Linked DNA regions of Homo sapiens: region 2 is linked to region 1. Evidence: fine-mapped expression QTL. A gene starts in region 1. The other region holds a variant in brackets. All regions are shown on one strand. Distances are between the middles of the regions. Region 1 holds the start of PRTN3 (proteinase 3). Region 2 overlaps TCF3 (transcription factor 3).

Region 1 (16,349 bases):
CTAAGAGGTGGCGTGGAACCCTGGCCGCCGCCCTCCTCCCCTCATGGCAGCCCGGTGCCCGGGGTGGGGGCACGGTTACTTACGAAGCAGATGCCGGCCTTGCGGCGAGGGACGAAAGTGCAAATGTTATGTGGCCGGCAGAAGAAGGTGACCACGGTGACATTGAGCTCCTGCAGGACCTGGGCTGGGGGGTCGTGGGCACCCACGCGGCCCCAGCCCATGGCCAGGCACTGGGTGCCGTGGGGCACTGGCTGGTCCTGCTGTGGCAGCTGGACTGTGGCGACGGAGGCACTGAGGTTGGCTGGGCTGCTCAGCTGGGGCAGAAGGCAGGCGGCGGTGAGACGCTGCTTCCAGGTCACGGTGGCCGCCCGGGCCGCCCTCCCACCACACCCACCACACCCACCACCTCAAAACGCCGCGGATGCCGCTCCCTCCGCCTGGGCCCCACGACCCCCTTTGTCCCATTTGTCACTATTGTATTCATTCATTTTCTTTCCTTCTTTCTTTCTTTTGAGATGGAGTCTTGCTCTGCCACCCAGGCTGGAATGCAGTGGCGTGATCTCGGCTCACTGGAACCTCCCGGAGCCATCCCATTGGGTGAGGTGGCCAGCCTGGTCTCAAACTCCCAACCTCAAGTGATCTGCCTTCCTCAGCCTCCGAAAGTGCTGGGATTACAAGTGTGAGCCATAGTGCCCGGCCATTCATTCATGTTTTCTTTCTTTCTTTCTTTTCTTTTTTTTTTTTTTGAGATGGAGTTTCGCTCTTGTTGCCCAGGCTAGAGTGCAGTGGCACAATCTCGGCTCACTGCAACCTCTGCCTCCTGGGTTCAAGCAATTCTGCTGCCTCAGCCTCCCAAGTAGCTGGGACTACAGACACCTGCCGTCACGCCCAGCTAATTTTTGTATTTTTAGTAGACACGGGGTTTGCCATATCGATCAGGCTGGTCTCAAACTCCTGACCTCAGGCGATCCGCCCGCCTCGGCCTCCCAAAGTGCTGGGATTACAGCCACCGCCCCTGGCCCATTCATTCATCTTCAAAGCACTTTTTTTTTGAGATGGGGTCTTGCTCTGTCGCCGAGGCTGGAGTGTGGTGGCATGATCACAGCTCACTGCAGCCTCAACCTCCTGGGCTCAAGTGATCCTCCCATCTCAGCTCATGAGTGGCTTGGCGTGTGCTACCATGCCCGGTTGATTTTTAAATTTTTCTTTTGTAGGCTGGACGCGGTGGCTCTCTCCTATAATCCCAGCACTTTGGGAGGCTGAGGAGAGCAGATCACTTGAGGTCAGGAGTTCGAGACCAGCCTGGCCAACGTGGCAAAACACCGTCTCTACTAAAAATACAAAAATTAGCCAAGCGTGTTGGTGCATGCCTGTAATCCCAGCTACTCAGGAGGCTGAGGCAGGAGAATTACTTGAACCTGGAAGGCAGAGGTGGCAGTGAGCCGAGATTGCACCACTGCACTCCAGCCTGGATGACTGAGTGAGACTCTGTCTAAAAAAAAAAAAAAAAAAAATGTCTTTTATAGAGATGGGGTCTCACTAGGTTGGTCAGGCTGCTCCCAAACTCCTGGCCTCAAGTGATCCTCCCATCCCAGCCTCCCAAAGTACTGGGAGTACAGGCGTGAGCCACAGTGCCCAGCCCCAAGCACTTACTGAGCACCACCTGTATGCCCAGTCCCGTTCTAAGCCACATGAGTCCAATAACGAACAACACAGACAAAAATCCTCTGCCCTGGGGAGCTGATCTTTCTGGGTGGGAGGAGGCTAGGAGGGCCCCATGAATGAGAGGAGCACGCGGTTCAGTGGAGAACAGTGAATCGGGGAGGGCTGTGGCTGTCCTCGCCACTTCCAGTGAGGTCAGGGGAGGCGCCGGAGGAGGCGAGGGCACCTGGCTTTCTGGGGGAACAGCACACCGGGCGGAGGCGCAGGCAGGGGAGAGGGGCAGGCAGGGGAGAGGCGCGCAGGGGAGAGGCGCGGGCGGGGGAGAGGCGCGGGCGGGGGAGAGGAGCGGCCGGGGGAGAGGCGCGGGCAGGGGAGAGGCGCGCAGGGGAGAGGCGCGGGCAGGGGAGAGGGGCGGGCAAGGGAGAGGCATGCAGGGGAGAGGCGCGGGCAGGGGAGAGGGGCGGGCAAGGGAGAGGCGCGGGCGGGGGAGAGGCGCGGGCGGGGGAGAGGCGCGGGCGGGGGAGAGGCGCGCAGGGGAGAGGCGCGGGCGGGGGAGAGGCGCGGGCGGGGGAGAGGCGGGGAGGAGGAGTGGCCTGGTGTCCAAGGAGCGGTCTCCCCCGGCCAGTGCCACTGGACCCAGGCTGCAGCGGCCTCGGTCGTGGCCCGGTATACAGTGGGTGCTCAATGAATGCTGGCTGCAGGAATGGGGGTCCCGGAGCCCTCTGGCCGTGCCCCTCCGAGCCCTCGCGGCCCTGCCCGCCCACCTGGATGAGGAGAACGTCGTTCAGTTTGTTCTCCGCGTCGTAGTTGTTCAGAAACACCTGAGCCACCGAGAAGTGCTGCTGGGTGGGCTCCTGCGTCCGCACGTTGTGGGCTCCGAGCACCACGTTCACCAGGCGCTGGGGTCTGCGGGGGTGGGGTGGTCACTCCTCGGCGCCCTGGACACTCGCCGCCGCCCACAGCCGGCCCTTCCCGAGGCCGCGGTGCAGCCCCAGACCCCTCCCTCGGCGACCCTGCCCCGGGCCTCCCCCCAGAACTGCCCACGCGCGCGGGGCCTGGGGTCTGCAGACGGGGCTTAGCTGGGTCCTCCCCGGGCAGAGGGACAGTGGCCGGGCCAGGGCTGGAGGAAGAGGGCGGGGCGGGCGGACAGGGGTGTGGAGGCGGCCGCTCACATGTCCCGCAGGCAGTGCGCGGCCGTCAGCACGAAGCTGGGGTGGATCAAGGTGCCTCCGCAGAAGTGGCTGCCCGGGTTCCCCCGCATCTGCAGGGAGGCCATGTAGGGCCGGGAGTGTGGCTGCGCCTCGTGCCCGCCCACGATCTCCGCAGCTCGGGCAGCACCTGCAGGGGGGGAGTCCAGGCGTCAGGGAGCCCCCAGGCTGCAGGGAAAGGGGGGATGGCAGAGCAGCCCCTGGGCCTCTCCGAGCCTCCGTCTCCCGATCTGCAACCCGGTCAGTGCCTGCTGGCTGGTGGGAAGGACTCAGCGCCCAGGCCGGGGGGGTTATAATTACGACGATTTCCAAAGGCGCCCTGGTGGCAGCTTTCAGTCCTGAGAGTCAGGAAGGCTTTTAAGACGCAGACCAGGTGGCTGGGTGCAGTGGCTCACGCCTGTAATCCCAACACTTTGGGAGGCCGAGGCAGGAGGCTCCCTTGAGCTCAGGAGTTCAAGACCAGCCTGGGCAAAATTGTGAGGACCCCATCTCTACAAAAAATTTTAAAATTAGCCAGGCATGGTGGTGTGCACCTGTCGTCCCAGCTACTTGGGAGGCTGAGGAGGGAGGATCGCTTGAGCCCAGGAGGTCAAGGCTGCAGTGAACTGAGATCACACCACTGCACTCCAGCCTGGGCAACAGAGCAAGACCCTGTCTCTAAAACAAAATTTAAAAAAATGTTTTTAAAGAAGCAGAAAAATTGGTCGGGTGCGGTTGGCCCACGCCTGTAATCCCAATACTTTGGGAGGCCGAGGTGGGTGGATCACCTGAGGTCAAGAGATGGAGACCATCCTGGCCAACATGGTGAAACCCTGTCTCTACTAAAAATACAAACATTAGCTGGGCGTGGTGGCACGTGCCTGTAGTCCCAGCTACTCCGGAGGTTGACGCAGGAGAATCGCTTGAACCCAGGAAGCGGAGGTTGTGGTGAGCCAAGATCGCCCCACTGCACTCCAGCCTGGCAACAGAATGACACTCCGTCTCAAAAAAAAAAAAAAAAAAAATTAGCCAGGTGTGGTGGTTCGCACCTGTAATCTCAGCTGCCTGGGAGGCTGAGGCAGGAGAATCGCTTGAACCCAGGAGGCACAGGTTGCAGTGAGCCGAGATCACACCACTGCACTCCAGCCTGGGCAACAGAGTGAGATTCTGTCTCAAAAAAAAAAAAAAAAAAAAAAAATCCTGGGCGCAGTGGCTCATGCCTGAGTGAGACCCCATCTCAAAAAAACAAAACAAAACAAAATAAAAAAAAAGAAGCAAAAAAAAAAAAAAAAATCAGCCAACAAAGAGACCCATTTTGCAGATGAACAAACTGAGGCATTGAAAATCCCCCTCAGGTCAGGAGTTCGAGACCAGCCTGACCAACGTGGTGAAACCCCATCTCTACTAAAAATACAAAAACTAGCCAGGTGTGGTGGTGTGTGCTTGTAATCCCAGCTACTCAAGAGGCGGAGGCAGGAGAATCATTTGACCCCAGGAGGCTGAGGCTGCAGTAAACTGAGATTGCACCACTGCACTCCAGCCTGGGCGACAGAGCAAGATTCCGTTTCAAAAAAGAAAAAAAAAGGGCCAGGCGCGGTGGCTCACGCCTGTAATCCCAGCACTTTGGGAGGCTGAGGCAGGCGGATCACGAAGTCAGGAGATCGAGACCATCCTGGCTAACACCTTGAAACCCCGTCTCTACAAAAATTACAAAAAATTATCCAGGCATGGTGGTGGGCGCCTGTAGTCCCAGCTACTCGGGAGGCTGAGGCAGGAGAAAGGCGTGAACCCGGGAGGCTGAGCTTGCAGTGAGCCGAGATCGCGCCACTGCACTCCAGCCTGGGCGACAGGGCGAGACTCCGTCTCAAAAAAAAAAAAAAGAAAAAGAAAAAGAAAATCACCCTCAGGATAGGGACCTGAGGGGGCCCATGCTCTCTTCTTCCCCTGATTCCAGCATCACTAACTCCTCGACCCTTTCACTCACTCACTCATTCATTCATTCACTCATTCATTCGTTCACTCATTCACTCATTCACTCATTCATTCACTCATTCACTCATTCATTCACTCACTCATTGATTCATTCACTCATTCATTCGTTCACTCATTCACTCATTCACTCATTCATTCACTCACTCATTGATTCATTCACTCATTCATTTGTTCACTCATTCACTCACTCACTCATTCATTCACTCATTCATTCATTCATGCATATTCACTGAGCATTTGCTGAAGGCTGGGTGCTGTCCAGGAATTCGCCTGTTACTAGCTAATTCCCAAAACAGCTCCTCAGGAGGGAAGGGCTGGGTTTTGCCCGTTTTACAGATAGGCAACTGAGTCAAATGGCCAGGGCTCCCCCTTGCCCTTGTCCTCCCCACCCCTGCAAGCGTTGGTCCCGAGCAGTGAGTGGAGTCTCCCCTGACCCTGCCTCAGTTTCCCCAGCTGTGCCAGAAGGGCTTTGGATGGACCTCGTGGTGGATATTTCCCCACAATCCACCGGGGCCTGGAGGCTGGATGGATGGGCACGTGGCTCACTCACCGCTCAGCAGCAAGGCCAGCAGCACGGACGCCAGGGCAGGGCTGGGGGGCCGGTGAGCCATGGTGGGGTCCAGGGTGCACCCACGGTCAAGCTCCTCTTATAGCCCAATGCCAGAGGCCGTTGAGTTGCCCAATGCCCAGGCTGGGTCCCCACTTCCTCCTTTTGCCTTGGGAGCCTGGGAGTCAGAACGGACTCCGGGGAGGAGGTGGGGGCTTTGGGCTCAAGGTCCCAACCTTTGTGGGGGCGGGGAGGCTGGCTGTCACCCACCCAAGTCGGGGGTCCCTGGCCAGGTGGGCAACATGGCCACAGCCCTCAGAGCAACACATGCCCACGTGCCACCCACAAGGAGACGCCTCCCTGACGAGGTCCCTGTGGCCCCAGCAAAGCCGGCCGTGGCAGGTGTGTCCCGTGGGTGGGTGAGCTGGAAACGGACAGACAGCAGGACGTAGCAGGGGACAGGATGCAGAGCTCGGGAAGGCAGGGCCCCACCACGAGTGCCCTCAGTGCCTCACCTGAGGCCCCAGCGAACATCCTCCTGCCAGTTTTGTCTGGGGGTTTTCTTCCCCCTTTAAGGCCAGGATTCTCAATCAAGAGGTGATTCTGCCCCCAGGGGACCCTGGGCGAGGTCTGAGGACACCTGTGGCTGTCACGAAAGGGGAGCTCCTGGCATGGAGTGGGTGGAGGCCAAGGATGATGCCTAGCACCCTGCAGTGCCCAGGACGGGCCTGCCCCAGAGAAGGATCCAGCCCCGATGTCCACAGGGCCCAGGGGAGAGACCAGTGTTCATTATTTGGGGAAAAAAATGGCCAGGTGCGGTGCCTCACACCTGTAATCCCAGCACTTTGGGAGGCCGAGGCGGGTGGATCGCCTGAGGTCAGGAGTTCAAGACCAGCCTGGCCAACATAGTGAAACCCCATCTCTACTAAAAATACAAAAATTAGCTGCGCGTGTTGGCGGGCGCCTGTAGTCCCAGCTACTCAGGAGGCTGAGGCAGGAGAATCACTTGAGCCTGGGAGGCGAAGGTTGCAGGGAGCCAAGATCGTGCCACTGCACTCCAGCCTGGGCAACAGAGCAAGACTCCATCTCAAAACATAAATAAATAAAAATAAAAAATAAAAAATCCAGTCTGCCCCCTGCTCACACCGGACACCAGAATAAACTCCCGATGGGGCGTACGGCATAAACCCGGGGGACCCCAGCTCCCGGGACTCGCCTCCTCTCTCCCTCCCACTCAGGGTGTGGATTTCAATGTGTGCAGCCTCCTGGGACCTCAGCAGGGCAGAGGATCATGGGACTCAGAGTCTCTTGGGGTCTGTGGAATCCTCTAACCCTGGGGTGATTCTGCCCCCAGGGGTCCCTGTGTGAGGCCTGGAGACATCCGTGGTTGTCACGACTTGGAGGGAGCTCCTGGCAGGGCCCTGCAGTGCCCAGGATGGCCCCGCCGCAGAGACAAATCCAGCCCCCATGTCTGCAGTGCCGGAAACGGGGGAAAGCCGAGGACAGAGGATAAAATTATTTATTTATAACTGAACGGTTTAAACCTACAGTGAAATGGAGAGAAGCACTGAATGAACTTGGAGGCCAAAAAGAAAAAAAGCTTTTTAACGTTTCATTTGGAAAGGATTTCACGCTTACAGAAGTCCAAAGGGTCCAAACTCCCTCCCCGCTCCCCAAACTCCCTCCCCCGGCCTCCCTCCCCCAGCTTCCCTAAATTCTGTCCTCTTGCTCAACCCTCCAGGCTGTGATCGAAGCCAGGGCGCGAAAGTTGATTCCAAATGGCCCCCTCTGCCCCAGCCCCCTGAGTATCACCAGCCACCCTTTGCTGGGTCCTGGGTACACAAGCCACCCATCTTCAGATGTCAGGGTCTCCTCCAGCGGGCGCAGTCCCTCTGCCCTCCCTCAGCCCTTGGGACCATTGAGGAGAGCTGGTGGTCACTCTGCAGAGCGTCCCTCCGTGGGGATGGTCCTGGGTGGCCTCAGGACTCAATGGAGGGAGTCCCGGGCGTGGCGTGTGTCTGTCTCAGGCCCCCCACGTCGAAGCCCATGGCTTCGGCCTGTCTCGTGCTGATGGTAATAACCTTGACCACGTGGTCAGGGCATCTGCCGGTTCCTGCACTGTCCAGTTACTGTTTTCCCCTTTGGATTTTTTTTTTTTTTTGAGACAGAGTCTCGCTCTGTCACCAGGCTGGAGAGCAGTGGTGCGATCTCAGCTCACTGCAATCTCCGCCTCCCGGGTTCAAACAATTCTCCTGCCTCAGCCTCCTGTATAGCTGGGATTATAGACGCCCACCACCACGCCTGGCTAATTTTTTTTTTTTTTTGTATTTTTAGTAAAGACGGGGTTTCACTATATTGGCCAGGCTGGTCTCGAACTCCTGACCTCAGGTGACCCGCCCGTAATCCCGCCAAAGTGCTGGGAACACAGGTGTGAGCCACTGCACCTGGCTATATTAATGTATATAACATAGATGTATACATAAAATATGTAGCATGTATATTATTTACATTATATAATATATAATATTTTAAAATATACATATATATTTTTTGAGACAGGGTCTGGCTGTGTCACCCAGGCTGGAGTGCAGTGGTGTAATCATGGCTCACTGCAGCCTCGACCTCCTGGGCTCAAGCAATTCTCCTGCCTCAACCCCCCAAGTAGCTGGGACCACAGGCATGCTCCACCATGTCCAGCTAAAGTTTTTCTTTCTTTTTTTTTTTTTTTTTGGTTGGCTGTTTAATTTTTTGTAGAAATGGGGTCTTGCTATGTTGCCCTGGCTGGTCTTGAACTGCCAGCCTTCAGGGACGCTCCTGCCTTGACCTCCCCAAATGCTGGGATCACAGGCATGAGCCACCATGACCGACCTGATGTGTATTAAAGAACTAGAGCTGTGGGCCGGGCGCGGTGGCTCACGCCTGTAATCCCAGCACTTTGGGAGGCCGAGGCGGGCGGATCACGAGGTCAGGAGATCGAGACCATCCTGGCTAACACGGTGAAACCCCGTTTCTACTAAAAATACAAAAAATTAGCCGGGCGTGGTAGCGGGCGCCTGTAGTCCCAGCTACTCGGGAGGCTGAGGCAGGAGAATGGCGTGAACCCGGGAGGCGGAGCTTGCAGTGAGCAGAGATTGTGCCACTGCACTCCAGCCTGGGCGACAGAGCGAGACTCCGTCTCAAAAAAAAAAAAAAGAAAAAGAACTAGAGCTGTGGCCGGGCGCGGTGGCTGTTGCCTGTAATCCCAGCACTTTGGGAGGCTGAGGCAGATGGATCACAAGGTCAGGAGTTCAAGACCAGCCTGGGCAACATGGTGAAACCCCGACTCTACTAAAAATACAAAAATTAGCTGGGTGTGGTGGCAGATGCCTGTAATCCCAGCTACTTGGGAGGCTGAGGGAGGAGAATTACTTGAACCCGGGAGGTGGAGGGGGCAGTGAGCTGAGATCGCGTCACTGCACTCCAGCCTGGGCAACAGAGCGAGACACCGTCTCAAAATAAAAGGGTTATTCTCATTCAACAAAAGTGCTGTTGGTTTCAGCCATGAGTCAGCTCATGCTGAGGCAAGCTGTTTGGCTTGCAGTCCTCAGTTTCCCCACCTGTAAAGGCGGGTGAGGACGGTAATAGGACCTTCTGCAGGGCAGCAGTGGGGGTCGACGGATTTGAGGTTTCTTGATTTGTTTTTACATGGAGTTTTGTTCTTGTCACCCAGGCTGGAGTGCAGTGGTGTGACCTTGGCTTCCTGGGTTCAAGCCATTCTCCTGCGTCAGCCTCCTAAGTAGCTGGGATTACAGGCACCTGCCACCACGCCTGAATAATTTGTTTTTTGTATTTGTAGTAGAGACGGGATTTCACCATGTTGGCCAGGCTGGTCTCGAACTCCTGACCTCAGGTGATCCGCCGGCCTCAGCCTCCCAAAGTGCTGGGATTACAGGCGTGAGCCACCGCGCCCTGCCTTTTTTTTTTTTTAATAGAGAGGGGTCTTGCTATGCTGCCCAGGCTCGTCTGGAACTCCTGGGCTCCAGCGATCCTCCCCCACCATCTGGCCACTACCGAATTGTTAAGTGGGTGAATTGCTTGGTGTGTGTGAAGGACATCTCAATAAAGCTGTCAACCAAAAAAAAAAGAAAAGAAAGAAAAGAAAGACCTTGCACACACACTGCTGGATCTAGCACACGCGAGAGCTGCCCAGGGGGCTGCCCCGTCCTCACTGTACGTGGGCTTCCCCGTCAGGATCTGTTTCCACGCAAGGCTGATGCAGCCCGGTCCTGACCGGAGGGTCCCAGCACCGTCCCGCGGGCCCCGGGTCCTCCAGGCTCCCTGTGCGTCCTGGGGGGACTCAAAAGCACAGGCCAGGGCGACAGGAGCGCTGGGAGCGGGTAGCAGGGAGGGTTCCGTGGAACACGCTGGGGGCTTTGCAGGGGTCGGCCTGGGGGCAGAGGTAGTGGGGGCCCCTTCCTGTACCAACCGTAGGTGGCGCAACTGGTAACGGCTTCAGGGATCGCAGGTGACGCCGCCTGGGGCCGAGGGGAGACCCATGCGGGGCTCAGGCCTGTGTCTCTGTCTCTGTCTCTCTCCCCGCCCTCTTTCTGTCTCCTTCTCTGTCTCTGTCTCTGTCTCCCTCTGTCTCTGTCTCTCTGTCTCAGTCTGTCTCTGTCTCCCTATATCTGTCTGTCTCTTCATCTCTGTGTCTGTGTCTGTGTCTCTCTGTGTCATCGCTGTCTCCCTTTTTTAAAACTATCTCTCTCAGTCTCTCTGGCTCTGTCCCTCTTTTTCCGTCTCTCTCTGTCTCTGTGTCTCTGTCCGTCTCTGTCTCTCCATCTTTCTTGTTCTCTCTTTTTTCTCTCCTCTACTACTTTCTTTTTCTTTCTTTCTTTCTTTTTTTTTTTGAGATGAAGTCTTGCTCTGTTGCCCAGGCTGGAGTGCAGTGGCGCGATCTCGGCTCACTGCAAGCTCCGCCTCCTGGGTACAAGCGATTCTCCTGCCTCAGCCTCCTGAATAGCTGGGATTACAGGCGCCCACCACCACACCCAGCTAATTTTTGTATTTTTAGTAGAGACGAGGTTTCACCATGTTGGCCAGGCTGGTCTCGAACTCCTGACCTCAGGTGATCCACCCGCCTCGGCCTCCCAAAGTGCTGGGATGACAGGCGTGAGCCACTGTGCCCGGCCTCCTTTCCTCTCCTCTTTATAAAGGAAAACCTTCTCTCCCTGAGTGACGGGAAGATGCTGGTTCGCCCGCGAGGCTCAGCCTCGCAGTGGTTGTGTTTTGTGTGTGTTTTGTGCCGACCGTTGACCTTCCCGTGTGCTTGGGGCCCTGACACCCGGCCGCCTTCCACACCCCCCAGGCCCATCCACCCACCTGTCCCCTGATGCCCCCTCTCACGGGATTTCTAAGCCAAACCCAGACATTTCACAATCTGTTCTGAGAATTCCGAAAATTTAAAAACCTTCTCAAGACACCAGTGAGTGGGGCCGGGTAGAGGGGCACAGAGAAGAAACAGAACAGCTGTTTTTAGCCTGAGCACAGCTGGCTCTGCCAGGAGGCTGCACGCGTCGGGGCCTGGACGGGGCTGCGGGGTGGGGGCTGCACGCACGCGTCGGGGCCTGGACGGGGCTGCGGGGTGGGGGCTGCACGCGTCGGGGCCTGGACGGGGCTGCGGGGTGGCGGGTGGGTCCACGGATGGGACCCCGTTCTATGTCCCTGAAATCCGAGGCGCGGAGAGGACTCGGGCTGCCCACAGTCACACGCAGCCCCGCTCTGAGGGCCCTGCAGCCGGGCTGACCGCTACCAGGGGAACCCGAGAACAGCACCCTTGGGCCCAGGAAGGGGGAGCAGCAGGGGCTGGGGGGAGGAGGGCAGAAACCGCCTCTGGCAGGAATCCCGCCCCAGCAGGGGGACCCTCATGACCGAACGTGGCCCCGAGCCGGGGGCACCAGAAGCCCTTGAACCCCAATCCTGCCTTGGGCCTCAGTTTCCCCATCTGAACAATGATCAGGCAGTGGCTTTGCCTCTCCAAACCCAGGCAGGGCCCCCACCGGCTGGGCTCCTGAGCCATTGGCACCCCTCTCTAGGCTTAGTTTCCCCCTCTGTAAAGAGAACCCGTTGGCCGGGCGCGGTGGCTCACGCCTGTCATCCCAGCACTTTGGGAGGCTGAGGCGGGCGGATCACGAGGTCAGGAGATCGAGACCATCCTGGCTAACACGGTGAAACCCCGTCTCTACTAAAAATACAAAAAATTAGCCGGGCACGGTGGCGGGTGCCTGTAGTCCCAGCTACTCGGGAGGCTGAGGCAGGAGAATGGCGTGAACCCGGGAGGTGGAGGTTGCAGTGAGCCGAGATCGCGCCACTGGACTCCAGCCTGGGCGACAGAGCGAGACTCCGTCTCAAAAAAAAAAAAAAAAAAGGACCCGTTATACCCACAAAAGAAAGAAAAGCAGCAGTTCCAACACAAACCTGCACATGAGTGTCCACAGCAGTGAGGGTCACAGTGGCCGGAAGTGGAGAGGCTCAGACGTCCATCCACAGGGGCCTCGAGCAGCACAGTGAGGCCTCCAGGCGTGGCAACAGGACGCAGCCGTGAAACGGACCCAGCTGTGACCCGACCACGGCGCGGAGGCACCGTGAGGACGTCACGCTCCGTGAGAGACGCCGGACACGAAAGACCACATAGTGTGTGATCCCATTGCTATGAAATGTCCAGGACAAGCCCATCCACAGAGACAGGAAGAGGACGCGTGGGTGCCGCGGACTGGGGAGGGGACAGGGAGTGACGGCTGATGGGGACAGGGATTCCTTTGGCGGTGATGAAATATTCTGGAACTCAACAGAGGTCATGACCACACAACATTGTGAGTGTACCGAAGACCATTGAATTGCACACTTCATTTTATTTTATTTTATTTTTTATTTTATTGAGACAGAGTCTCACTCTATCCCCTAGCCTGCAGTGCGGTGGCTCAATCTTGGCTCACTGCAAGCTCCGCCTCCCGGGTTCATGCCACTCTCCTGCCTCAGCCTCCCGACTAGCTGAGATTACAGGTGCATGCCACCATGCCAGGCTAATTTTTTGTATTTTTAGTACAGACAGGGTTTCACCATGTTGGGCAGGCTGGTCTCAAACTCCTGACCTCAGGTGATTTGCCAGCCTCGGCCTCCCAAAGTGCTGGGATTATAGGTGTGGGCCACCACGCCCGGCTGTACACACTTTAAAAGAGTGAATTCTAAGGCCGGGCACGGTTGCTGAAGCCTGGGAGGCTGAGGCTACAGTGAGCCTTGATCACGCCACTGCACTCCAGCCTGGGCATCAGAGAAAGACCGTGTCTCAAAAATAAATGAAATAAGGTCAGGCGCGGTGGCTCACGCCTGTAATCCCAGCACTTTGGGAGGCTGAGATGGGTAGATCACCTGAATTCAAGAGTTCAAGACCAGCCTGGTCGACATAATGAAACCCCATCTCTACTAAAAAATATATATATATAAATTGGCTAGGCATTGTGGCTCACACCTGTAGTCCCAGCTACTCAGGAGGCTGAGGCAGGAGAATTGCTTGAACTGGGGGCGCAGAGGTTGCAGTGAGCCGAGATCGCGCCACTGCACTCCAGCCTGGGTGACAGAGGGAGACTCTGTCTCAAATAAATAAATAAATGAGATAAAAATAGCTCACTGCATCCTCAACCTCTTGGGCTAAAGTGATCTTCCCACTTTAGCCTCCTCAATAGCTGAGACTACAGGTTCTTCTTCTTCTTCTTCTTCCTTCTTCTTCTTCTTCTTCTTCTTCTTCTTCTTCTTCTTCTTATTATTATTATTATTATTATTATTATTATTATTATCATTTTAAGAGACTGGGTCTTGCTCTGTGGACCACGCTGGAGTGCAGTGGTGCGATCACGGCTCACTGCAACCTCCACCTCCTGGACTCAAGCAATCTTCCCACCTCAGCCTCCAGAGTAGCTGGGACGACAGGTGCCACTTACCCGGCTTTTTTTTTTTTTTTTTGAGACGGAGTCTTGCTCTGTCACCAGGCTGGAGTGCAGTGGCGTGATCTCGGCTCACTGCAATCTCCACCTCCCGGGTTCAAGCAATTCTCCTGCCTCAGCCTCCCGAGTAGCTGGGACTACAGGCGCCCGCCACCACGCCTGGCTAATTTTTTGTATTTTTAGTAGAAACGGGGTTTCACCGTGTTAGCCAGGATGGTCTCGATCTCCTGACCTCGTGATCCGCCCGCCTTGGCCTCCTAAAGTGCTGGGATTACAGGCATGAGCCACTGTGCCCGGCCTCTCCTGTGTAATTTTAATAATTTTAAAAATTATTTTTGTAGAGACATGGTTTCACTACGTTGCCCAGGCTGGTCTCAAACTCCTGGGCTCAAACGATGCTCCCACCTTGGCCTCCCAAAGTGCTGAGATTACAGATGTGACTGCCACATCCAGCCATCATATTCATATTTTATTCTGTATTATTTATATATACAATTATATTTATTATTTCATATTCACGTTTTACTGTTTCTATTGGATCCAAGAGGAGAATGTTCCCCGTTTTCTCCCGTGGTTTTTGTTTTTTTTTGAGCTGGAGTCTCGCTGTCGCCCAGGCTGGAGTGCAGTGGCGCCATCTCGGTTCGCTGCAACCTCCGCCTCCCGGGTTCAGGTGATTCTCCTGCCTCAGCCTCCCAAGTAACTGGGATTACAGGCGCCCGCCATCATGCCCGGCTAATTTTTGTATTTTTATAGAGATGGGGTTTCACCAGGTTGGCCGGGCTGGTCTTGAACTCCTGACCTCAGGTGATCCGCCCACCTCGGCCTCCCAAAGTGCTGGGCGGCATTCACTGTGTGACCTCTGGGCAGCCACCCAACCTCTCTGAACCTGGGCCTCCCCCCAACACCCCGCTGTCGGGTGCAGATAACACCAGCCCCTGCTTCCCGGGCTTTGAGGGAATCTCTGAACATCTGACATCTGCACAGGCAGTGCACCTGCGGTGGGTGCCCCTAAGGCCGGTGAAGGTGCCACTCACGCGTCCCCACAGCCCCCTCCCCCACCAATGAACAGAAACCAGGAGCAGAGGAGAGATCGGCTTCTTTATTACAGCCAGGGCCCCTCTGGCCGGAGCGGGGGCAGGGGCGGGGCCGTGGGAGGTGGGTGCGGAGCGCCGGAGGTGTGGAGGGCGGGGCTGGGCTCCATGGGAGGTCACAGGCCCCCCTAGGCTGGCCCCGGTCCCGGGTTGTTGAGAACACCATCGATCCAGTCTCGGAAGAGCGCCACTCGGGTGAAGAAGTCAGGGCCTCGGCCACAGGGCCCCAGGGAAAAGGAGGCCACGCCGTGGGCCAGGCCCTCGCAGACGAGGGGGGTGCCCCCGTCCCCCTGGGCAGGCAGCAGCTGTGTCAGGGCGTCCCAGGGCCTGGCTCCCACGCCACCCCAGAACTGCAGAGGCCTCTTGCTGCCCCTGGAACCTACAAGTCCTGATCCAGCCCCAGGGCCTTTGCATGGCTCTTCTCTTTCTCTGCCCTGGTTAACTGCTAGTGGACTTTGGGATCAGTTGCTTTCTGGAGCTTCCTGGCACCTCCAGGCTGGGCCAGGTGCCCCTCCCCTGGCAATCACACGCCTGAGTCCCTCAGTGACCGGCTCTACCATGCCTGCTGGGTCCCCAACCCCCAGCACAGACGTGGCTCACAGCCGGCGTTTGATAGCTACTGTTTCTCAGCCAGGCACGGTGGCTCATGCCTGTTATCCTAACACTTTGGGAGGCCAAGGTGGGTCGATCATGAGGTCAGGAGTTCGAGACCAGCCTGACCCACATGGAGAAACCCTGTCTCTACTAAAAATACAAAATTAGCCGGGCGTGGTGGCGCATGCCTGTAATCCCAGCTACTTAGGAGGCTGAGGCAGGAGAATCGCTTGAACCCAGGAGGCGGAGGTTGCAGTGAGCCGCCGAGATCACGCCACTACACTCCAGCCTGGGCGACAGAGCGAGACTCTGTCTCAAAAAAAAAAAAAAAGATACTGTTTCTCCTACCGTGAAAATGCTCAATCCTGGGGCCCCCCTGCTGTGCCGCCCTCAGCCTGCACTTGCTTTCTCCTGCCACGGAGAGCTCAGTACCTCTCAGGACCCCTCCTCCCGCCACAGGGAGCACTCACATTGCAGATGCCACCGCGGCGGGTGAGCACACCGGTGCACACGTTGTTGGGGCGACACTGGTCCTCGGGGGTCACAGTCACGTTGACAAACCTGGGAAAACGGGAGAGACGCCCCCCACTGCGCTGGCTCCCCCAGCCGGCCACCTGGCATCTGGTGCCGGCTTCCACCGTGGCGTTCTGCAGAGGCAGTGGCAGTATCGTCACGCTGCTGGTGAGGTTGGCCTCACGGTCCAGCTGGGGAAGGAAATGGAGTCAGGGGAGGGTGGCCCTGGGGACTGGAGCCTCATGGGGACCCCTGGGAGCAGAAGTGTCAGCGACATTAACTGTAGTCTGTAAGTGGTTTGCGTTTAATTCCCGGCAGGGGCCGGGTGCGGTGGCTCACGCCTGTATTCCCAGCACGTTGCGAGGCCAAGGTGGGTGGATCACTTGAGGCCAGGAGTTCGAGACCAAACTGGCCAACAAGGTGAAACCCCCGTCTCTACTTTTTTAAATTTTTTAATGATATTTTTGAGATAATTTTATCATTTTCTCAAAGAAAAAAACCAAACATGAAAAACATTCACATGATTCTGTCATAGCAAAAGCATTTGAAAACGACGTCAGTCTCCACCAACAGGAGGCTCCATACGCGAACCGTGGTACATCTGTATGTGTTGCTGTATTGTTTTTGGAAGTTTTTTTTGAGATAGGGTCTGGCTCTGTTACCCAGGCTGGAGTGCAGGGGCGCGATCTCGGCTCACTGCAAGCTCCGCCTCCCGGGTTCAAGCGATTCTCCTGCCTCAGCCTCCTGAGTAGCTGGGACTAGAGGCGCCCGCTGCCATGCCTGGCTA
Region 2 (8,000 bases), 790 kb before region 1:
TGGTTCTGGTGGAGGAGGTTGTCCCCGCTTCTGGTGGAGGAGGTTGCCAGTTGTCCCCGGTTCTGGCGGAGGAGGTTGTCCCCCGTGCTGGTGGAGGAGGTTGCGAGGCGTCCCCGGTTCTGGCGGAGGAGGTTGCCTGTGTTGCCCGCACAGCCTCACTGTGCCTCTACCCGAGGGCACGTCCTGCCACTTTAGGTGCTGTGGGGACCCCCACTCTTAGGGTGGTGTGTGGTCTCCACTCACATTCTCTTCAGCCTCAGGTTTGTCTGCTCGCGGGCGGGCCACAGGGCCCTGCTGTCCCACCCCCCATCGCCAGACATTAGAGGCAGATCGAAGTGGGAGGCTTTGCGGGATCTCGTCAGCCCCCCAACAAGGAAGGGCTCTGTGGTGCCCCAGAAGCATTTTCTCCCCCACTCGGGATCCTCCTCAGAAGCTGGGAGCATGTGCTACACAGCCTGCGGGCCCTGACCAAGAAGACACGACAGGAAGATAAACCCAGGGCGGCTGCAGTGCGCGAGCTGGGCCGAGGGCATCCTGGTCTTTCATCTTCTCCCATAGCTTGAATTTAGATAAAATGGAGGCTGTGCACGCCTGTGACCCCAGGGCTTTGGGAAATACAAGGTGGGAGGAGCGCCTGAGTCCAGGAGTTTGAGACCAGCCTGGGCAATGTAGTGAGACCCCATCTCTACAAAAAAATTTTTTTAAATTCACCAGGCGTTGTGGCTCATGCCTGTAATCCCAGCACTTTGGGAGTCTGAGGCAGACGGATCACTTGAGGTCTGGGATTCAAGACCAGCCTGGCCAACATGTATGAAACCCCGTCTCTACTAAAAATACAAAAATTAGCTGTGCGTGGTGGCAGGCTCCTGTAGTCCCAGCTACGTGGGAGGCTGAGGCGGGAAAATCACTTGAACCCAGGAGGCGGAGGTTGCAGTGAGCCAAGATCGCACCACTGCACTCCAGCCTGGGCAACAAGACCCTGTCTCAAAGCAAAAGAAAAAAAAAATTTTTTAAAATACTGCTCCACCCAAGGAAAGGCCACCCCCGGATTCAAACCTCTGTCTGATCTCACCCGTCATGACCCCCAGAGGGGCTGGGAATGGGTCTGAGAAGCATCACAAGCTGCAGGGGCCAGACCCAGGCAGGGCGGTGGGACAGGCTGCCATCGGGGTCCTTCACGATTTTAATTATAAGGAGGAAGAAGAGACGGGGCGAGGCACGGGCTTGGGGGGTCATAGTGACCCTGTATCGGGTGGCCCGCTCCTACTCCCGAGTAAACGGAACCTGCGTGAGGAGCTGTCGAGGTGTTAATTGGTTTTTAGACGTGACCGTGGTATTTGGTGGTGGCTGTTATTTCATTTGCTTTTGGGGACTGGGTTGTTCAGTACAGCAGGCATTAGCCATATACACATTTTTAAATGTAATTTTTAATGTGCTTGAAAAAATGCTGGCCACGTTTCCAGCAGTTGGTAGTGTGGTCCCCGTATTGGACAGCAGAGGTGGAGAATATTTTGATCCTCCAGGAAAATGTTCTTGGAAGCACAGTTATTTATGAGTAAAATGAAGACGTTGAGGGTGGGTGTTTTGGGGGCGTCAGCTGTGTTCCAGGCAGTGCTGCAGACAAAGAGGGGTCCCAGGCTGGGAAGGGGCTCAGGCAGGGGGTGTGGGTGGGGGTCACCTCCTGTGTTGGGGAAGAGGAGAGTGGTGAGATCAGGAAAGAGTTTGGTCTTTATCCTGAGGACGGTGGGGAGCCATGAGAGAGGGTAGAGGGAGGGAGAAGAGCCAAGTTTTGCTTCTAAAGGCTCCATCCGGCTGCCTGAGGATGTCAGCAGACTTGGAAGGAAGCTGCTGCAGGGACTGGGCTTAACCCGCTGCTGTAGCTATGGGGCAAGCTGCTGTTCTTTGGGAGGAGGGAAGGTGAGGAGGACTCCCAGGACTTTAGCCTGAGCACCTGAGTGGGGGCACATTGCAGAGCTGGGGCTATAGGATGAAGTCCCCAGGCCCATCTGAAGCCAGACCACCTGGTGGTGTGCCTGAGGGTTTGGCAGGGGCGGTACACAGGGCTGTGTTCAGGGCCCGTGTCCACCAATAGTTTTGCCTGCCCGGCATGGTAACCCCACTCCTGGTACTGAAGTCTGTCGATTGGGTTTCTTGTGCAGAGGCAGCTGAAGGCACTTGGACAGTCTTTTTCTGTATCAAGGTCAGCCAGCCTTCTCCGGAAAGGACCAAGGAGTGAATATTGTTGGCTGTGCAGGACAGATGGTCTCTATTGGAATTGATTCAACTCTACTGTTGCAGCAAAAGCAGCCGTTGATAGTACATGGACAAACGGGCATAGTGTGTGCCAATAAAACTTTATTTAAAAAGCAGCTTAGGGGCCAGACTTGGTCCTTGTGTACTGTTTGCAGATCCCTGCTGCAGACCAATCTCAGTCCTACCCGGTATTTACTAAGCGCCTTTTGAAGCCTCCCTCTCCCATTTGCCAACGAGCCACCAGGCAAAGACCAGTCCCCGGTCCCTCTCAGGAGGGGACCCAACAGGGACCGGGACTGGGAAACCACCAGCCTGGAGCATTCCTTGGCTACGGATGGCCTCTCTGAAGCAGCATCTTTCATTGTTATCCTCACGGCAGCCCAGGCAGGTGGGCGGCTTCCACACCCCGTGACTGGAATTGGAACTGAAGCCCAAGGGGTGGGCCGCTCCTGGGGCCCTCTCCCCAGCGCCCCTGCGCCGTCCACTCGCAGGCCTCTCCCGAGGCAGCCAGGCTGGCCCAGGGCAGGAAGGTGCCCTTCCCGGGTAAAACTCTGCGGTGCTTCACCAAAGAAATCACAGAAAACCACACTCTGACAGCAGTGTCTTATTCTATTAGTACATTTTAATTAGAACAGGAGCAATGGATGCATTATGAATATTCATGGTGGGTTATTAAAATGCATCATTAATCGGTGGGGGGGATTTTAATAACTGTATTAATGTGGGGGCTGTCCTTATTTTTGTCATTTCTAGGAGGAGGCCAAGGCTGGGTGAGGGAGGGTTCCCCCAAAGGGCAGATTGAGGCCGCAGTGCCTCTGGCACAGGCCTGTTGGAGTGAACTTCGGGGGCGATCCCTGGGCATGGGGCCCCAGGAGGTCCCCCACCACACCAGGCCTTCCAGGGGATGAGGGCTGGGGTGCCAGGAGCCTCCCGTTTGCTCAGTTGGGGGTCTCTGCACCTCCTGGGGTACTGGCTATGGCCGGAGGGGACCAGACAACATGCAGGTGGTATAGAGGCAAACTGAGACCCAGAGGGTGCCGGCGCTGTGCCCACCCCTACACAGCCAGCCCACCCTGGCCTCAGCAGCTGCCCTGTTCACCAGGGCCCACGTGCAGGACCAGGATCTTGGGGTGCAGATGGCCCAGACCTGGCAGCGAATGCCGTGTGGATTCCTGGAGACCACAGGAGCCCCCTGCCTGGCCCCCAACCCAGCCAAGGCAGCATCCCAGCCCCCCACTCATAATCACATTGGAAATTTTTGATTAGAAAACAAAATCTAAATGAGGCGCATGAATATTCATTAGACTTGGAGATTAATATGCATAATTATGCAAATCAGACAGCAATTAAACACCAATACTCCCCGGGGGGAATGATTAACACAAAGGCACCGAAATAGAAGGATGCGATTTGAAAGAAGTTTCTGGTGTGGATGAGCAGGGAGGGCAGGGGGCGGGGCGGGGGAGCCTGCAGAACAGCCTGAGGTGGTGCCGGTCACAGACATCAGCACTGGGCTGGGTCCCCCAGGCCTGGCTCTCGGGAAGCCTCTGGACTTGGGAGTTGGACATGGACACCCCCAGCCCTGCAAAAGTAGGGCCTGTTTGTAAATCATTTATAGAGAGGGAAACCAAGGCAGGGCAGCAACTCCGTGGCCAAGCTGAGGAGGCCCAGGGCCCGCTCCTGCTTCTCCACGGGTGTGCTCTGTGGCCCC[C/T]GATGGAAGGGGGAAGGATCCAAGCAGGCCCTCCCTGCCCAGGGCAGAAGATTCTGGAGTCCTGGGCGTTGCCTGTGAGTGTTCTGAGAGATAAGGGCCCCGCCCGCCCCGCCCCGGGACCAAGGTCCTCGTCCCGTCCCTTGCTGCGCCGGGAACTCCTGCCCCACGCAGGCTTCTGGTCTCCACACTGGGCTTGTTCCTGGGTGATGAGATTCGGCTCCACCCTCACGGGCTGCCAGCCTCCTGCCCGATGGGTGAGCCTCTGCTGCTGCTTCAGCAAAGGGCGGCCCCACTTCCCACACTGGCAGGTGGGGACAGGGAGACCCTGGGCCTCCCCAGAGCTCATGGGTTAGCTTCCACACCCTCATGCTGTCATGAGCCTTTCTCACAGGGTCAGAAGAGTCTGCATCTGACACAGAGACCCCAGTCCACATAGTCAGGGCTGGGCCAGAGGGAGGGACTTGGGGCTGATGGGGAGGAGGCTCGGCGTGAGAGTGAGGTCTTTGCCCAAGGAGGGTATGAAAGCTGGGGCTTTAGTGGGTGGGTAGGAGTTGGCCAGCAGAGAGCCGACGGAAGAGTTAATTTAAGTTTATGGACCTGTAAGTGCTCCGAGTCCCAGGGTGTCTGGGTGTTAGCTGCTGACTGGTGTCCTCATGAGTCGGGCTGGGTGAGGCTGGGTTAGGAAGGGTTCCACAAGCCCCCCGGGTCCACTGAGGTTTGCCCCTGAGATGATGAACCGAAGCTTTTAGAGCTGGGCAGGCGTGAGGGTGACCCATAACTCTCTCTGTCCTGCCTGCAGGTCTTGAGGACCGGCCCAGCTCAGGCTCCTGGGGCAGCGGCGACCAGAGCAGCTCCTCCTTTGACCCCAGCCGGGTAGGAGTCCCCGTGAGGCCTGAGACCCTGAGTTTCCTGTCCCCAGAGTTGGGGGCGAGGGGTGTGGGGAAACTGAGGCTGAGAGAAGGGGCCAGCCTTCCAGGGGTTTGGACTGGGGGACATGGGTTTGAGTCCTGCCTCTCCAGCTGTAATGCGGGGTGGAGGGGGGGCCTGTGAAGCCCCAGCACCTCTCATCCCCACCCCATCTCCCCTAGACCTTCAGCGAGGGCACCCACTTCACTGAGTCGCACAGCAGCCTCTCTTCATCCACATTCCTGGGACCGGGACTCGGAGGTGAGTGCCTGGCCTGGTGCGGTCCCTCTGCTGTGCACAGATGTGCAGACGTGGGCCTTGGCATGGTCAGTGCACGCACAGCGCCAGGCAAGTCCCCAGCGTTCACCCAGAGGGTGTGGACAGCCGAAGCCTCTGCCCGTCCTGGGAGCAGCTGCGGGGAGGTGCAGGGGACGTGGCCCGGACTCCCTGGCACGGCACTCTGCAACTAGGCTTCCCCGCCTGAGCGTAGAGGCAGGGAGGCCGTTCCAGACCCCACTTCCTCCCTGGGATTTCTGCAGGGCTCCTCCTGCTTCCCGGGGAGGGGTCAGCCGGGCTGGCCTGTGCCCGCTGGGAAGGAGGCGTAGGAGTTCTGGAGACTCGGGAGGGCGGCCAGAGTGTGCGGTGGTCAGAGCCCATGCCCTTCCGCAGACCGCCCGCCCGCCCTCTTTCCCTGGGGGGCCCTCCTGTTAACCGAGAGAATCGTGACTCAGGTTGGGCTCGGTGGCTCACGCCTGTAATACCAGCACTTTGGGAGAGCGAGGTGGGTGGATCACCTGAGGTCAGGAGTTTGAGACCAGCCTGGCCAACATGGTGAAACCCCGCTTCTACCAAAAACACAAAAATTAGCCGGTCATGGTGTTGGATGCTTATAGTGCCAACTACTCAGGAGGCTGAGGCAGGAGAATTGCTTGAACCCAGGAGGTGGAGGCTGCAGTGAGCCGAGATCACGCCATTGCCCTCCAGCCTGGGTGATGGAGCGAGATTCCATCTTAAAAAAAAAAAAAGAATGAAGACTCAGGCCTGGTGTCTGGTCCCACCCCACCACGGAACCTGGGCAAGCGCCATCCTCTTCTGAGCCTCAGTTTCCCCACTGTGGGAAAGGGACCCTCCCAGAACCTTCTTGGAGGGAGGCGGTGAGGACTGACCCAGCTCTGCAGGCCCTGCCCAATGCCAGGTGGGGGTTGGTGCCTGGTCTTGGGTATATTCCAGCCCCGCTGCAGGCTCACCCGTGCTGCAGGGGAACGAACCGACGCTTGGGAAGGGCACCCTGGCCGGGGGTCTGCGGCTGGGTGGGGCTGACTGGGACGCCCTCCTCCAGGCACCTGGGGCTGCGACTGGGACAGTGTCCCGTGTGCGGTCCCTCCTGCGGGTGACACAGGAAATGCCCCGAGCTTCACATGCTCCGCCTCCTGCGGGAGTGTCAAGTCCTGTGCCCCAGGGTTCGGGGGCTCAGGTAGGGGTCTTGGGGGGGTCCCGCTGCTTGGGGGGCTGGTAAGGGCCTCAGGGGTCCCGCTGTCGTGGTCAGCCTCCTGCCCCAGTGCCTCAGCTGTGGAATTTGTGGTTTCATCCCTCAGTCATCCTGGGATGCGGGATCCTTCCCTTCTCTGGAACCCGACGGTTTGAGGCAGTGTTTCTGCTGGCTTTTCGTGGTGCAGTGGGGGTGTGCGCTGCTTAGAAGCCGGGAGCTGTGGGGCACTGGACCTGCTGCGGGGCCCAGGTGCTCACCGTGTACCCCTCGGCATTGTTGGCTTGCGGGGAAACTGAGGCCCGGAGGACTTTGGCCGACCCAGCCTTTTCCCTGGACCCTGAGGGGCAGCGCCTGTTTGGGCCCCACAGCGGGGCAGGGACGGTCCTGTCTCGCTTTGCCCGGCCTCGAACTTGGAGTACAGTAGAGTCAGTTGGTGTCCTGAGTAGGAAGCGAATAGCGTGAAGGTCTGGCGGGTGTGTCTGAGGGCCCACCACGTGCCACGGGCGATTTCTGCCCGTTCCCCTTACGGGGTAGGTGAGGCCTGGCCCCGCCCCCCTGCCGGGGGTGGCCCCTGCACCTGGGAGCCTGGTTCCTCACTGGCTGTTCCTTCCTCCCAGCCTCTTCCTCATACCCCCGATGGCCCCAGGGTGGGCAGGGCTGACGTGGGCAGTTCCCACGGCCCGGCCAGCAATGCCCAGAGCCCAGCCATGTCCCACCTGCCACCCCCACGGGTGGGGCCCAGGCCATAGCCAGGCAGCTTGGAGAGGGCAGGCGGGGGTCCCGGGGAGGCACGGGGGGCTTTTGCCATAACCTCAGTCTCCTATGGCCTCAGTTTTCTCACCCGAGGAGCCGGGCGAGTGACTGCTGTGGCCGGGTGTGGCCTGTGGGGTGGGTCGTGGCTGTCATCTTCCCCATGTCCCCCCGGGTCACCAAGATGAGGAAACGGGAGGCAAAAAACAGCAGCATTTGTTCCAGGAGTTGGGAAATCGTTGAACTTTTAAAATTCAAAAATCGGGAAATTTTTTTCCTGCTTTGAGAATAATGTACATTACTCGATCGCGCGTCCCAGCCCCTCACAGCAGCCCCAGTCACATTCCGTGCCCAGTGTCAGCCAGAAGGGGATTTAAGTGGCTCAGGTCCTGAGTAATCGGGGTGCCTGCTTCAGGCAAGGCTGGATCCAGGTGTCACCGCATCAGCCCCAGGCCCTCCACACTGGGGGCTCGCCCCGGCAGGCTGTCCTCCTCCGTAGCCCAGGCCCTCCATGCTGGGGGCTCGCCTTGGCCAGCTGTTCCCCTCCGTAGCCCAGGCCTTCCATGCTGGGGGCTCGCCCTGGCCAGCTGACCCCCTCCGTAGCCCCGAGGCCTCACCTGTCCTTTGTCACTGAGCGCCCCAGGGAAGTGCTCATTGGTGGGGTGCAGGTCACGTGCTCATTCGCGAATGAACCCTGGCCTGAAGGCTGAATGCTGGGCACTTTGGGGGAGCCTGTGCGGTGAACCTGATGCGGTGTGCACAGGCCCCGGGGCTCCCCGCCAGGGCCCCCAGGCCTGTCCCCTGGGACAGACAAATGCCTCTGACCCCAGCACCCCAGGGCATCAGCCCCTCAACGCCTGAAACAGAGGAAACTGAGGCTCAGGAAGGGCA

The links. PIP is the estimated chance that this variant, and not a neighbour inherited with it, causes the effect.
Region 2: its variant is fine-mapped to the expression of PRTN3 in liver (GTEx, PIP 0.97).

Annotation. Positions count from the first base shown.
Region 1 is chr19:830,112-846,460 of GRCh38, reverse strand. It overlaps PRTN3 (proteinase 3), which reads right to left and starts at 5,462. Exons shown (of 5, transcript NM_002777.4): 1 at 5,392-5,462; 2 at 2,835-3,000; 3 at 2,427-2,568; 4 at 84-314. The coding sequence starts at 5,452. It overlaps AZU1 (azurocidin 1), which reads right to left. Exons shown (of 5, transcript NM_001700.5): 4 at 15,520-15,753; 5 at 14,443-14,745. The coding sequence ends at 14,584.
Region 2 is chr19:1,629,169-1,637,168 of GRCh38, reverse strand. TCF3 (transcription factor 3) reads left to right here. Exons shown (of 19, transcript NM_003200.5): 4 at 4,764-4,837; 5 at 5,053-5,131. Among named protein-coding and RNA genes, the nearest start is that of TCF3, 19 kb to the left of the region's middle. The variant C/T (reference allele first, on the strand shown) is at 3,965.